Linked DNA regions of Homo sapiens: region 1 is linked to region 2. Evidence: fine-mapped expression QTL. Tissue or cell type: whole blood. Region 2 holds a variant in brackets; the other region holds the start of a gene. All regions are shown on one strand. Distances are between the middles of the regions.

Region 1 (2,686 bases), 380 kb before region 2:
ATCTTATTTTTCTAGCAAATCCAAAAAACAGTGAATCCAAAAAAAGTCCCCTAGTATCCTTTAAAAATAAAAATAAGAAACAGTTCTAGTATCTGCAGCAATCGACAAGGAGGTGAAGTAATACTACAAGACGACATAGTTATATCCACTAGTGCAACGTGATTTAATCCTTACAGAGGTCCCTAAAACATCAGTGCTGGACAACCTCACACGTTCTACACAGAACAGACAAGACGAGGTGCAGGCTCTGTGACCTTATAATGGCACACACACAACTGGCCTCATGCTTCCATAACTTCACTCTGCCTCCCACTTTTTTCAGCCCAACCCCTCCAAACATGGGTCTCGGTCGGTCCCCTTAAGCCACAATGGAGGGAATACATTAGGCTAAGCAAATATTCCCTCAGGATTTCATGGCAAAGCCCTTTCAACCAAAGAAAGGATCGCGACTAAGGAGAAAGATAACAAGGTTTGCTTGAGGAGAGGTCTGTTGAGAGAGGCTACAGTCGGTGGTGGGAGAGAAGCCAAAGTCTGTGACGGTGTCTAGAGGGACTGACACCACATCTACCGGGAGTAAGAACACCATGACAGCGGCTATCTGAAAGCCGTGATGGCTAGGGTTAGTGCTAGTCGGCTTGGTGATGAGCGAGCTGGGAGGGGTTCTACTAAGAAGAGTAGGGCGAGGGGCACATGGGGGACGCAATGGGTTAGGGGGCGGTCGAGACTTTGCCTGAGAACTGTAATCACGTCAGCCCAAGGGAGGATGTAACGTAGTCTAGAAGCTCCATTAAGAGTCCTAAGGGACTCTGAGGGGTACTAATGGGGTCTGCTGGGTTGGGGGGACCGTGACAGAATCTCCGGGGAGGCTGGAGGGCCGGAATGGTGCCCGGCCAATGGAAGATACAGGGGGTGGGGTCTACTGGGGATCCGGGGCCGTGATCTGGTGTTTGGGAGGCTCGGCGCAGACCCGCTCGCGGGGCGTCTCCGCTGGGACGGGGCGGGGCGGCCCGACCGGAGCCAAATAGCGAGGCTGAGACGTGGGCCAGGACGGGCTGCAGGGCCGCTGGGCGCTTGGGCGGGTCTTACCTCGGGCTCCGCCGCGGTGGCCACCGCAGCCCCCTCCTCTTCGACGGAAGCTGCCTTCCACCCTCCGCCCCAGGGTAGGACCGGAGATGGCAGAAGAGGCCGAGGCCACCGAGGGTCGGACGGTTCCGGGAGGGTGGGCCCAGCAGCCTCAGGGTCCGGGCGAGCGGCCGCGGCGCATCCCCCGCCCTGTCAGAGAGACTCCGCCCGGCCTGAGCAGGCACATCCCCCGCCGCACCCCGCCCAGAGAGCACGCGTTGGACCGCCGCCTCAACCGCTGCCAGCGGCCGCCTCTGCCGGTGCAACTACTGCCTCCGCCGCCGCCTCTCGCAGTCCGGGCTGTCCTGTACTCTCTCAACAGACACAGCCAACCGCCGCCGCGTCCCTTATCCGCTTCGGTCGCGCGCCCCCGACCCCGCGCACGCGGCCCCGCCCCGCGCGACTCCCCGGCTGCAGGCGAGCAGGCGCGCGCGCACTTACCTCCCACGCCCCCTACTGCCAGCACGGGTCGGCCCCGCCCTGTCCCGCCCCCGCACGTGACGCCACTGGAGAGTACAGCGTGCGCTTGCGCAGACACGCCCCCTTTCCTACGCCCCAGGCGGCCCCGCCCAAATTTTTTCTTCTTCACCTTACGGCAGAGCAGGGAACTCAGCTTTAGATTCTCCCTGTACTGGAAAGGGATGTCGCAAGGTTGGGGACGAAACCTCTGAGTTTGCGACCGTAGCTGTCGCTTTCCGGCCAACACAGAGGTGCCTGAAGGCTGGTTGGGGTGGTGAGGCCCGAGGCAGGTAAGAAGCCTCCTCCCCACTTCGGTTTGTCTCGGCAGTGGATCGCTCTCCCACCCACTCAGATTCTGGCGTATCCGTGCTCCCTCCCGATTCTGGACCTGGATTCTCAGCGCCGCCGGTCATAGCCCCCGCCCCTTTTCAAACACGCACGCTCTCTCCACCCACTGCCCCCTCCATTGTCCCCGCCCCGACCTCCGTTTCCATTCATTTCTCAGACTTTTCACTGAGTGGTTTCCATGCCTTGGGTTCCAGAATGTCAGAGGCGAATTAAGTGGTGTCAGCTTTTTGAAGTGCTTTTGTATAGGAGACCGTGAGAGAATCCGCAGTGGTAGTACAATAAAGTGACAATAGAGAAAAATGCACGGGATGCTGTCTGCGCACAGAAGAGGGGTCCCAGGTTGTGTAGGAGGATAACGTGAGGAAGCCCTTTCCAGGGTGACTTTTGGGTCACTTTTAGAGGACTGTGTTAAAAGACTAGTAATCCAGTACCTGGTCAAAGAAATACGAAAGGAGGTAAAAGCAGAATAACGGGCGCAAGAGCATGTGACAGTGGTGGTCTGAAAGAGAAAAAAGAAGTAAAATAAACCTGATGGAAACCGTACTAGTGTAGACTTCCCTTTAAAGAAGCATCGTTATAAAGTTAGAGAAATGAGGAACGAGAATATGGCCCTCAGGAATGTTTTCTGTTTAGGTAGAAGACTCAAAAGCGTACCATGAAACCGAGAAGTGGCCTCTTCGAGGGTGAGGGAGGCTAATTTATAAGATCAAGATCACTAGTGGAACGCAACCTTGTATGTGCATTTGAATCACCTGGG
Region 2 (2,686 bases):
GTGTGAATCTTCTAATCCATTGTGCTGGATCTTCAGTGGACCCTTTCAACTGGAAGACTTGTGTCCTTATAAAGCTTTGGGGAATTAACTTCTGTTACTGCTTTGCTAATTTCATTCCCTCTCTTCTTCTTTTGGAATTCCTATCAGTTGAATGTGAAAAACAATGGATATAACTTAAAATAATGATAAGTTATGGAAGAAAGATTGAGAGGTGCATGTAGCGTGCCAGATCCTCATCTTTCACATTAGGAAGGTGACAGATAATATCTAAAATAGAAAAATAATAACTCCTTGAGCATAAGCATATTATTTAGCATAAAAGTAAATACTAGAAGACACAGAAGAGTTTAAAATGGTTACCTCAGAGGATTAGAAATCAGTAGTGACTGAAGTATGGCAAAGAACACTGTTAAATCTTGCAGTACCATTAACTTCTAAAACTATGTATGTATATTAAATAAAATAACTTAAAAGTGATTTAATGTAATCCTTAAGGTCTACATTTAATGATACCTTCATTCTTTAAAATATCGTCAGGAAGTTTATGTAGACGTGTTCTTAGACCAAATATACACTATCAGCCTTCATGGGAGGAGGTACACACTATGTATTCCTTTGTCATGATTCGTAATTATTGAGCTGTGTATTTTGAGAATAATTGATAGAGAATGTACTGGAGATTTACATGGCCTGTTATTGCTTGGTTTTAAAACTTAAAGGATACAGGGGTATATTTTTGTCTAATTCAAGATCATTTGGATTTATGACTTTTATTAGCTTTAAAGAAGCCTACAATGGCTTTTTTCAAAAATAGAATTTTTCTTAGAAAACAGTTTTTAAGAGACAAATTTATTTAAATGCCCACTCTTTTAAAATAAAGTTAGATGTATGGTTTTCAAATAATCTTATGTTTGTTATTGAACAAAATCTTATTTACTGTATATACAAATATATAGTATGGATGAGTAAGAAGCAGTGAATTGCTAATCAGAATCCCACCACTTATCAGTAAGTGTTTTGAGTTGCACGGTTTGAGAAAGTACTGGTTCAAATGCTGTTAAAAATCAAATTTTTGTATGCTGTCTCTAGATGGTTTGTTGATGACCTAGTGGTTGTGTTAAAGAAGTGGAGTTACATTGAAGTCACGCGAATGTTTTGCTTGTGTGTTTGGTGGAACATTTTTAGTATATGCCACAGCAGATACGTGGAATGCTGATACTTAGGGCTTAACAGTTGGAACCCAGAAGTGAGTATGTGAACAAATAACTGAAAGGTTACAAAATAACTTTAATCATCTCACAATTCTAATCACCACAAAAATAATAAAGTAGCATGAGGTGGTCTATATTTATGGTTTACATTAGCCCCACTGTGCCAGGGCAGTTTGGAATTTAAGTTACCTGGTTCTTGGCTCTACCTTTAGTTTGTACCCTTTTTATCAATAGGGCTTTTTTGCCCCTATAAGGAATAGCCAGTTAAGAGACTGCAACCCAAGAAAATCTTGCCTGAATGGAGTTTCAGGTAACGATAAAAGTTTAAAAACTAGGGTGTTATATATATTAGAAGTGACTTGTCTCTTGATGCAAAGT[C/T]ATAGACTGCTATTTTAAGTCTTGAGTATTTTTTTTTGATATAACATTGAAGGATACCTTACCTATTGTTTCTATTGTTCATGTAAATATACCCTTCCATTATCTCTCCCCACTTTGGTTTGCCGCTGAATTTTTATGGAAGAAATCAAATGATTATACATAGTGATAACATCCTTCTACTTACAGAAACATTGTATTAAAACACTGATTAAACTCTTGATGTTTTCTAGAGGTGAAATCTTTATATTTGGGATGACATAGAAGGAAGTAATTTCCCTCATAAAATAAATGTGCAAAGAACAGCAAAGCCCAGATGTGTCATTGGCTAGGCACATTTATTAACAAGTTTGGATGCATCAGGATTACATATTTAAATCAAATGCATATCTCAGCAAAATTTCAAATTGTTATGTATTTATAGGATTGCCAACAGTTAATTGAAACTTGTCATTGTTAAATTTTGCTTTAAATAATCTCCAAGAGTAATGAGTGGCTGGGCACTCACTCATGGCTGTAATCCCAGCACTTTGGGAGGCTAAGACAGGCTGATTGCTTCAGCCCAAGAGTTTCAGACCAGCCAGGGCAACATGGCGAAACCCTGTCTCTACAAAAAAATAAAAAAATTAGCCTGGCATCGTGGCACGTGCCTGTAGTCCCAGTTACTTGGGAAGCTGAGGTGAGAGGATTGCCTGAGCCTGGGAGGCAGAAGTTGCAGTGAGCCAAGATCTCGCCACTGTACTCCAGCCTGAGCGACAGAGCCAGACCCTGTCTTAAATAAAATAAAATTAAAAAAAAGAGTGATGAAGGTATGACATTCCTGCCTGCTGAAGTAATCTGAGAAGCCTCTTTAAGGGGGAGTTCTCTCAAGAATATTATCCTCAACATTTTTACCTTTTACCTTCCTTCTCCTGTGGTAGCTTAGAAGTAAATATTCATAACTGGGAAGTTTGATGATCAGTGTTTAGTTGTAAATTCTTTTAAAATGCACATACTTTTAAGCCATCTAGAGATTGTGTGGATTGTCTCCCTTAGCCCCACTAGGTGCTTCTCTGTCCTAAGTAGTCTAGAAGGCCAAAAACTATTTCTCAGACTATTTT

Evidence for each region. PIP is the estimated chance that this variant, and not a neighbour inherited with it, causes the effect.
Region 1: it holds the start of MYO9A, and the variant in region 2 is fine-mapped to the expression of MYO9A in whole blood (INTERVAL, PIP 0.95).

What each region holds. Positions count from the first base shown.
Region 1 is chr15:72,116,594-72,119,279 of GRCh38, forward strand. MYO9A (myosin IXA) reads right to left here and starts at 1,557. Exons shown (of 42, transcript NM_006901.4): 1 at 1,087-1,557. SENP8 (SUMO peptidase family member, NEDD8 specific) reads left to right here and starts at 1,810. Exons shown (of 2, transcript NM_145204.4): 1 at 1,810-1,871. RefSeq lists an enhancer at 499-708 and a silencer at 909-1,678.
Region 2 is chr15:72,500,445-72,503,130 of GRCh38, forward strand. The region is part of intron 1 of ARIH1 (ariadne RBR E3 ubiquitin protein ligase 1); the gene reads left to right. Among named protein-coding and RNA genes, the nearest start is that of ARIH1, 27 kb to the left of the region's middle. The variant C/T (reference allele first, on the strand shown) is at 1,590.